Homo sapiens: one gene and its partners. The protein of the gene in region 2 interacts with the protein of the main gene of each other region in a pairwise test. Each region holds a gene or a part of one and is shown on either strand. Other genes may lie near its edges. The genes, in order: GLE1, H2AP and ATXN3.

Evidence for each region.
Region 1: the proteins of H2AP (region 2) and GLE1 interact in binary tests that used the Homo sapiens proteins (3 or more experiments, as listed by UniProt).
Region 3: the proteins of H2AP (region 2) and ATXN3 interact in binary tests that used the Homo sapiens proteins (3 or more experiments, as listed by UniProt).

The regions. Positions count from the first base shown.
Region 1 is NC_000009.12:128,535,650-128,539,484, reverse strand, and holds part of GLE1 (mRNA export factor GLE1), read right to left. Parts: intron 3,131-3,835; coding exon 3,001-3,130; intron 2,659-3,000; exon of another isoform or gene 2,530-2,658; intron 1,500-2,529; coding exon 1,395-1,499; intron 1-1,394. UniProt on the Homo sapiens protein: Required for the export of mRNAs containing poly(A) tails from the nucleus into the cytoplasm. May be involved in the terminal step of the mRNA transport through the nuclear pore complex (NPC).
Region 2 is NC_000023.11:37,989,137-37,991,923, reverse strand, and holds H2AP (huntingtin-interacting protein M), read right to left. Parts: upstream 1,146-2,787; 5' UTR 1,085-1,145; coding exon 731-1,084; 3' UTR 610-730; downstream 1-609.
Region 3 is NC_000014.9:92,078,983-92,082,582, forward strand, and holds part of ATXN3 (ataxin-3 reference isoform), read right to left. Parts: intron 3,485-3,600; coding exon 3,318-3,484; intron 2,080-3,317; coding exon 1,983-2,079; exon of another isoform or gene 1,971-1,982; intron 487-1,970; exon of another isoform or gene 433-486; intron 1-432. UniProt on the Homo sapiens protein: Deubiquitinating enzyme involved in protein homeostasis maintenance, transcription, cytoskeleton regulation, myogenesis and degradation of misfolded chaperone substrates.

The DNA of each region.
Region 1 (3,835 bases), on a different chromosome or scaffold from region 2:
CTAACAAGGGAATAAATGGAAACACCCAACTTTCTTCTAAAGCATTTCTCTTTATATGGCAATATCTCCATTTAACCAATCAGGTCTTAATGAACTACTCTTCTTTTCCTCTAATGAATGGACGCCTTCCTAAAGGTATGGTATACCTCCCAAACTTAGTAAGGAGAGTATACAGAATACCACTTGTGTTCTCAAATGATACAGGATCATTGTTCATGTATGGTGACTTCAGGAGCTTTTTATTTTTTTTTGAAATAGGGTCTCACTCTGTCGCCCAGGCTAGAGGACACTGGCATGATCACAGCTCACTGTAGCCTCAACCTCCCTGGGCTCAGGTGATCCTCCAACCTCAGCCTCCTCAGTAACTGGGACCACAGGCACACACCACTAATTTTTGTATTTTTTTGGTAGATATAGGGTTTCACCATATTGCCCTGGCTGGTCTTGAACTCCAGAGCTCAAGTGATCCGCCTGCCTTGGCCTCCCAAAGGCTGTCAGCCACTGCACCTGGCTGACGTCAGGAGCTATTAAGGTAACTAGGAACTATTGGCACTATAGATCAAATGGTTCCAGATTTGTTATGGCATGTACCCCAAGGCTTTCTTCTATAAGAAGTGTCTTCTTGGCTGAGTGCAATGGCTCACTCCTGTAATCTCAACACTTTGGCAGGGTTAGGTGGGAGGATCGCTTGAGCCCAAGAGTTTGAGGCTACAGTGAGCTATGATCACACTAATGCACTCCAGCCTGGCTGACAGAGTGAGATCCTGTTCAAGCGATTCTCCTGCCTCAGCCTCCTCGGTAGCTGGGATGACAGGTGTGCACCATCACACCCGGCTGATTTTTTATTTTTAGTAGAGACGGGGTTTCACCATGTTGGACAGGCTCGTCTTGAACTCATGACTTCAGGTAATCCAACCACCTCGGCCTCCCAAAGTGCTGGGATTACAGGCGTGAGCCACCGTGCCCGGCCTTTATTTGTATTTTTAGTACAGACAGGGTTTCAATATACTGACCAGCTGGGCTCGAACTCCTGACCCCATGTCATCCGCCCACCTTGGCCTCCCAAAGTGCTGGGATTACAGGTGTGATCCACCGCACCCGGCCTGGGAGTCCCTTCTATATCCCTAAAACAAATTCCTCTTTTCACTTTTGCTAGAATGTACAATTTTCTGTTCTTTATAATGAAAAAAATCCAGAGAAGCCAAGTAAATATAGTATGGAGTAAAAGTGAAAGCAAGGTTGGTCTACAGCTTGGGAAAAATGTATGACACTGGAACCTCATGCTGTTTTACTATCAGGCCCAAATGCTATGCTGTTTCCCCATTCATGTCACCCAGTGGATCAAGGCTACCTCAACCACTGGCCTTCTCTTGTGTGATAACTGAGTTACGTACCTCCAGGAAGTCAAAGAGGAGGGTGGCTGTCACATCTGACAAGGGCTCCATGTTTAAGATCTGTGCCAACCAGCGCCATCCATGATTTAAGCCATGAGGGTGAATCTGGGAGTAGAGAAGCTTGGTTATCATTGATCTCATTTTGTTTAGAAATCTAAACTCCCAGTGTATCATCCAGCCATTACCAAGTGGAAATGAACCCCAGATCATCCAGCCCTAGCACCTGCCACAGGGCAGAAATAACACAAACTAAACAAATTCTGTTTTTCTTTTATTTTTTTGAGACAGGGTCTCACTTTGTTGTCCAGGTTGGAGTGCTATAGTGCGATCATGGATCACTGCAGCCTTCACCTCCTGGGCTCAAGTGATTCTTCCACTTCAGTCTCCCAAGTAGCTGGGACTACAGGCATGCACATGCCACCGTGCTCAGCTAATTTTTTTGTATTTTATTTAGAGACATGGTTTCACCTTGTTGCCCAGGCTGGTCTCAAACTCCTGGAGTCAAATGACCCACCTGTCTCGGCTTCCTAAAGGGCTGGGATTACAGGCATGAATCTACCTCGCCCAGCCTTCTGTATTTAAATGTTTCAGTACATTGGTTCCCACACATTCTTTTTTTTTTTTTTTTTTTTTTTTTGAGGGAGAGTTTTGCTCTTGTTGCCCAGGCTGGAGTGCAATGGCGTGATCTCGGCTCATTGCCACCTCTGCCTCCTGGGTTAAAGCGATTCTCGTGCCTCAGCCTCCCAAGTAGCTGGAATTACAGGTGCCCACCACCATGCCCAGCTAATTTTTGTATTTTTAGTAGAGACGGGGTTTCACCATGTTGGCCAGGCTGGTCTTGAACTCCTGACCTTAGGTGATCCACCCACCTCAGCCTCCCAAAGTGCTGGGATATCAGGCCTGAAGCTACCTCGCCTTCTATTTTTTAATGTTTCAATACATTGGTTCCCACACATTCTTTATAGGCTCCCTTCAATATGCATGTGTCAGCTTCAGTTTCAGGCATTCCATAGGGTAACAATTAGCCTTATTGACATTTTATTTATTATTCTTGGTACCTTTAGCACAGAACCTGGGACACAGCAGGCATACAATAAAAACTTGGATTTAATCAACTTCTATTTTTTCTCTTTAGGTCTCCGTAACTATTAATTTCTCTGTCCTTCTAATCTGTATTCCCTGAGAAATTAATTGGGCTGGCAAGTCAAAGCCCTGAACCCCAGCTGCAGCTTTCTGAGCTTGTTCTGTCCATCTGTGAAGTAAGGTATGTGATCTAGATGGCTTCTAAGGTCTCAACTAGTTCTAAGATGACAATTTCTTGCTCATTCCTCTTGTAAGAAAATCTTCTAACCTTAATGACTGATTTATAACAGACTCTCCTCTGGTAGACTCTGTTACAAAACCAGCTCTTTAAAGTACCAGGTGATCCAAGAAAGTTCCCTAATAATCAACATTCAGTCCTCTACATAATACCCATGAAACTGCCATATAGTTTATCCTTTAACTAGACTGGCTCTCTGAAAGAAGGCCAACATTTCCTGTGGGAGGAATACACATGGACTGTGGTCTAACCTCTCATTATTGACAGTAAGCCTCTTTTACCTACCTCCTGTCGGTTTCCATATGGCCACCGGAGCTGGATGATAGCAGCGTAGAGACGGATCATCCCTGACATGCGTTTTAGAAAGTTGTCTTGCTGCTCCACTTTGGAATCCTTTACTTGGTAACCAAGCATCCTATACGGGAAGAAAAAATTTGGCCGGGTGTGGTGGCTCACGCTTGTAATCCCAGCACTTTGGGAGGCCAAGGTGGGCAGATCACTTGAGGCCAGGAGTTCAAGACTAGCCTGGCCAATGTGGTGAAACCCCATCTCTACTAAAAATACAAAAATTAACTGGGTATGGTGGTGCATGCCTGTTTGTCCCAGCTAATTGGGAGGCTGAGGCATGAGAATTGCTTGAACCTGGGAGGTGGAGGTTGCAGTGAGTCAAGATTGCATCACTGCACTCCAGCCTGGGTAACAGTAAGACTGTGTCTCAAAAAAAAGAAATAAGAAAAAATTCACTGGGACAAGGCCAAAATAAGGGTGACAAATTAGAGATAAATTGCTTTTTTTTGGGAAACAGAGTCTCTGTCACCCAGGCTGGAGTACAGTGGTATGATCAAGGCTCACTGCAAACTTCACCACCCAGGTTCAAGTGATCCTCCCGCCTCAGCCTCCTGAGTAGCTAGGACCACAGGCACATGCCACCATAGCCGGCTAATTTTTTTTTTTGAGATGGAATTTCCATCTTGTCGCCCAGGCTAGAAAGCAATAGCACGATCTCAGGCAATCTCCGCCTCTCGGGTTCAAGCGATTCTTCTGCCTCTGCCTCCCGAGTAGCTGTGATTAAGGCACCTGCCACCACACCTGGCTAATTTTTTGTATTTTTAGTAGAGAC
Region 2 (2,787 bases):
AGGACAAAAAGATATATTCACAGCACTAGCTAATAATCCCTGTCTCAAATCCGCTTTCATAATAAGGCAGGGCATAAAGAAATAAGAAATGAAATCCAGCAGGCCATCATTTCTTTTTTGCATTTTTCATGATGGTTTCTCCTTCACTCTTCAATCTCCATGTAAAGCCCCTGTCCCATGAACTTCATGCCAGCCAGTGTGCCCCTCTCCACCCACCCCTGTGGCCACCGCCCTCTGACTTCAGACCTTTGCTATCCTGAATAAAGCCTCCTGCACCTCAGTCAGAGTCTGCAGCTCCACCTCAGGCCCCAGCATCAGGCTGGGAATTCAACAAGCCTCAGAGGCCCCCAGCCAACTCCCTGGCCTCACAAGGCCTTCCTGTTCAGAGACAATGAGGAAGTCTCGGTGTCTTTATCCCAGCCAGTTCCTCCCCACAGGGCCGGCGCCCTCACTGTCACCATTGGAAACTGCCCCCTCTAAATCACTGATTCAAACACCACACTGGCCACCCCTTCCCCGCCTTCAGCTCTCTGGGGATAGCTTCCCCTGGATGTCTTACAGACACCTACAACCCAAAGCGACAGAAACTGAGAGGAGTCAGAAACATACTCATGGATTTACATCCTTTAATAGCACTTGTTGATGACAACAGCAGATATTCCTCAGCTGTGACACATTTTTGCCCTGGCTAAGCCTGTGAGGTTCCCTTCAAGGCTCTGGGACCCAGTCTTCAGTCATTCTTCCTGGATTTGGGCATCTCATCAAACAAAAAGCGAGTCACATCACTCTCAGCGCTGTGGGGCTCACGGTTGTTGTCCACTTCTCTCTCCCTATCTTGTGAAGTGTTGCGCATACTGCCATTGTTGCTGGCCTCCAAGCCTACCCGCTCCATGATGTAGTCAGCAAGGCAATCGAGCAAGGTAAGGAGGGTATTTATTGTGGAGGAACTCTGGCTTTGGACGTCTCGTTCATCTTGCACAACGCGGTCCACGAAGCTCCTAGGGACCTGTAGCTCATTTCTAGAAGGGTCTTGAGTCTGGTTGTTATTTGTAGACGAGTTCTTACAGTTCTTTTTCTCTGACATGATGTTTGCTGGGTTTGGCTCTCATCAGCTCTGCTTGATTCTCTAGCTCAAGTAGGTCTCTGAGGACACTAGTGCTTAGTCCTGCCTATTGTATCCCTCTGCTCCAGGCCCTTATTGGTCAGGGAGCTAGCTGCCTTTGTGACATCCCTAGACTTTGTGATTTCATTGGTGTCCACTGGTCCCTTATCAGACCTCAGCCTAGAAATGTCTATGACACTGATCTAGTCACGCTAATGACTGAACCTTGATTTTGAGGGAACTATAACTCTCTACCTGATTTTGACATTATAAAAATAAATGTGTGCTTCAGTGGAAAACTTTGCTCTGTCTTTAGGACACCACTGCAGGTTATCTGATTCCAGCCTTACATTATCTGTGAAGTCTTTTATAGCCTTTTGTTAGTTGTAGGCTGCTGATACATGTACAGCATATTCTTTAGTAGAGGTTCGGTTGTTCTTCACCTTATGAAACCAGTTTTGCCTCCATTTACACAATCATTTAATATTACTGATGAATATTCCCATATCAACTCTTTGGTTTCCCTTTTGAAGCAGTCATAACATCTTTTTCTTTTAGCATGTGTTCATTTCATATCTGTATGAGTGTCATGATTTTACCCCATTTGAAAAATATATTTTAGTCATTTTTCAATTAATAATAAGATGCTCAGCCGGGCGCAGTGGCTCACTCCTGTAATCCCAGCACTGTGGGAGGCAGAGGTGGGTGGATCACAAGGTCAGGAGATCGAGACCACAGTTAAACCCCGTCTCTACTAAAAATAAAAATAAAAATAAAAATAATTAGCCGGGCGTGGTGGCGGGCGCCTGTAGTCCCAGCTACTTGGGAGGCTGAGGCCAGAGAATGGTGTGAACCCGGGAAGTGGAGTTTGCAGTGAGCCGAGATCGTGCCACCACACTCCAGCCTGGGAGACAGAGCGGGACTCGGTCTCAAAAATAATAATAATAATAAGATGTTCAATAAGTTTACCTGTCAGTGCCAGGTAAACAGTTGATAGAGAAGTGCATCTTGTGCTCAGTTTAAGCCCAGATGTGTATTTCTTGTCCCTCCTAGGTGAAGCCAAAGCACTAAGAGATGTTTCTTTTCTATTATTTAATTTTCTTCTCTACTAATTCTGTGTTTTCCCTTTGACTTTGGTTCATTTACAGCCAATAACTTTGCCATTCCACAAGGGAAAAAGTGGAAAGAAAAAGGAGTCTCAAATCCAAGCATTTTCAAAATCCAACCATTAGGTTTCAAGGCCTGAGAATATTCTAAGGCTTGAGACTCCTCCCTTTGATGACTCTGATCCTATGACTTCACCTGGGGTCATAAATCTGCCCTCTGGCCTCTAGGTTCTGCCCTCAGTCATTGTTCCTTTATTTTGAATGGTAGCATATGTTTACAGCTGAGTAGTTTTATCAGCCTGCTTCCTCCTGTCAAATTTTGAGAGTCCTGTAGACTTCTTTCATTTCTTCCTCTATTTGTCCCTTTCAGTCTAAGCTGGCATTGTTTCTGCTGATATAACATTGTCAAAAACTTACAGGCCTTTTATGTATGTCATGGGGATTCATGCCATTAGACAAGAGGCTTCTTCAAGATCCCTCATAGAAAATCCCATCTCTATTCCTTGCTTATTCTGAGAAGCACACCCCATATCTCTTCAAAACACCATCTATGTGATTGAATACTTTGATCTTTTGATC
Region 3 (3,600 bases), on a different chromosome or scaffold from region 2:
TAAGGCCAGCCTGGACGACATGGTGAAATCCCGTGTCTACTAAAAATACAAGAATTAGCCAGGCATGGTGGTGTGTACCTGTAATCCCAGCTACTTGGGAGGCTGAAGTGGGAGAATCGCTTGAACTCAGGAGGCAGAGGTTGCAGTGAGCAGAAATTGTGCCATTGCACTCCAGCCTGGGCAACAGAGCAAGACTCCATCTCAAAAAAAAAAAAAAAAAAAAGCAAGATTGGCCGTGTGCTAGTATTTGTTGAATCTGGGTCATAAACAGGAGTATGCTAGTTTTTCTACTTTTGTATAAATTTGGAGTTTATTATAATAAAAAAGTTAATTTTGAAACTTAAAAGTAAAAAGCACTAATAAGCACTACTTTGAAATTTAACATATAATTAGCCATTAATCTATACTGAATAAAGACTAGAAATATCTCACATTAAGAGGATGTCAGCTGATCAGAATTTTCCTTCATCTACTTCTGAGTTGTGACTTAAAAACAAAACAGAAAAAAAGGTAAATATTTTCTTCATTATACCATCAAATGTAAAATGAGCCAATATTTATAGGTGCTGCTAATATACTGTCAATTATGACTGTAAGATGCTTCTCAATTTCAGAGACATTGAAATGTGAAACTATGTGCATCTCAGAATGGATGAAATACAGCAAATAGTAAGTCAGATTGAGCTATGACTCTGTTTTCTGACCTAGGATCAGTGGGTCTGATTATTTATCTTGTAATCTTTAACATGAAGTTTTCTTTCTCTTTTTTTTTGAGACGAAGTCTCGCTCTTGTCCCCCAGGCTGGAGTGCAATGGCGTTATCTCAGCTCACTGCAACTTCTGCCTCCCAGATTCAAGCGATTCTCCTGTCTGAGCCTCCCAAGTAGCTGGGATTACAGGCACCCACCACCATGCCCGGCTAATTTTTGTATTTTTAGTAGAGATGAGGTTTCACCATGTTGGTCAGGCTGGTCTTGAATTCCTGACCTCAGGTGATCCACCTGCCTTGGCCTCCTAAAATGGTGGGATTACAGACGTAAGCCACCGTGCCCAGCCTTTTATTTTTCTTTAAAAAAAAAAAGTGGGGGACAAAAGTCTGAATGATAGTTACTTGAAAAGAATGTATTTTCATATGGTGGAATTCCTATTTAGCAAGCACTTACAAGGCTGGGCACAAGGTAAGGTTTTAGGAGTTGATCCAGATTTATGGTTTGCATCCATTCCCCTGATGCTAACAGGCTTACAGGACTGCCTGAAGCGGCCATGAGCAGCTAAATGAACTACCACGTCTATTTGGGAATGCGCTCCCATACCTCCAAAGCTGTTTTTCGTACTGATTGGTAGAGGAATTTTGCAGGGTTAATCAGGTAAGCAAGAAGTACATCCAAAGGATCAATTGGCATTCTTCTTGTCTTGTCCTAATTTCATTTTTCTTTTAATAAATGAAATTTTATAAGGTTTCCTTCACTCAGTTTAAAAAATTTATCCAGTATTGGGGCAAGGTTTTTTTGTTTCATGTTATTTGCCGTAAATTTTTATTTTTATTTATATATATATACATATATTTTTGGAGACGGAGTCTCACTCTGTCACCCAGTCTGGAGGGCAGTGGTGCGATCTCGGCTCACTGCAACCTCCACGTCCCGGGTTCAAGCAATTCTCCTGGCTCAGCCTCCCAAGCAGCTGGGACTACAGGCGCACGCTTCCATGCCCAGCTGATTCTTTTGTATTTTTAGTAGAGATGGGGTTTCACTGTGTTGCCCAGGCTGGTCTCGAACTCCTGACCTCAGGCAATCTGCCCGCCTTGGCCTCCCAAACTGCTAGCATCACAGGCGTAAGCCACCGTGCCCGTCCTATTTGCTGTAAATTTTTAAAAAATACATTCAAATATTCACAGGATTCAGGCAGTAACCATTTACAAATAGACAAAATAGCCAAAGCAAATATTAAACATGCTACTTTAACTTGTACCAACTACTTTACTTTTCAAAGTAGGCTTCTCGTCTCTTCCGAAGCTCTTCTGAAGTAAGATTTGTACCTGATGTCTGTGTCATATCTTGAGATATGTTTCTGGAACTACCTGAAAACAAAACACAACACAACAAAAACCAATCACTGTATTTACCAATTCAAGCAACAATATGTTTGTTTATACTCATTTGAGTAAGCCTTTAAAACGTTTTCTCTTTAAGAATATTCTACTCTTCTGGCTGGGCGTGGTGGCTCACACATGTAATCCCAGCACTTTGGGAGGCCAAGGCAGGTGGATCACCTGAGGTCAGGAGTTCAAGACCAGCCTGGCCAAAAGGGCAAAACCCTATCTCTACTAAAAGTACAAAAAATTAGCTGGGCGTGGTGGTAGGCGCCTGTAGTCCCAGCTACTCAGGAGGCTGAGGCAGGAGAATCGCTTGAACCTCGGAGGCAGGGGTTGCAGTGAGCCAAGATCACTGCACTCCAGGCTGGGCGACAGTGAGACTCTGACTCAAAAAAAAAAAAAAAAAAAAAGAAAGAAAAAAAAAAAAGAAAGAAATCTAAAGCTGATTTCTGTCCCTGCTAATCCAGCAGGACTCTATTAATCAAAAATGGGATTGCACACCATATGGAGTACTCAGAGGCATGCATAGAGGCAAGAAAAGTTCAGGATAAAAATAATCTTCCCATTAATGAAATTTCAATTTTATTTAGATATCTAAGGAAATCAACTGATAAATAATTTCATTAGAAAGTAGAAGCAAATACATATGAGTTAGAAAAAAATAAAACAAAAAACCCACTTCAAACTTTTAATTAAGCTACTTTGAGCTATGTCTTAACATTTTTCTTTGCCTAGATTGTCTAGGGGATATGTTTTCGCTTTTCTCTATTGATAGTTTATATCACTAAAAAACTGGGCCCACCAAAGTGGGCTTACGGTTTAAGTTGCATAGCCAATAAATGTTGGGTTTTTGTAAAATCAGTTTATATTCCCTGTCCAGGCCCTTCCATAGTGTCTAATGGCACATATTTATGTAACAGCTGATTTGGATAAGGGTCAACTGATACCCACAAAGATTAAAACCACAATTTACTATTGTGTTAGTACAGTGTTGAAACCAAATAAAATAACCAGGAGTAAAAATATAACTACTCCTAATAAAATATAGGTTGTAAAAAGTGATTTCCATTATAAGAAATCTAAAGGGAAAGCCCACTATATAGCTATTGCTTCTGCAGTAATTGTCAAAACACCTCTAAGAGTACATTAACTTCCATGAAATCTAAGAATAATTGGAATCAATTCTTCAGCAATGAATACAACACACATCAGAATGTCTTTACCTTGCATACTTAGCTGAATAGCCCTGCGGAGATCTGCTTCCTCATCTTCCATGTCAATTTCTTGGCGACTTAGTGCCAGAGCCCTCTGCAAATCCTCCTCATCTTCGTCTAACATTCCTGAGCCATCATTTGCTTCTAACACTCGTTCCAGGTCTGTTTTATGGACTCTAAAGAACAAAAGCACTGGTAATAACTGCAACCAATCTTCTATTTTAGACATAACATAAAGGCATTTGTAATGTAAAGGCTTTAAGTAAGTCAAAACTTAAAATGTTTTCTGGCA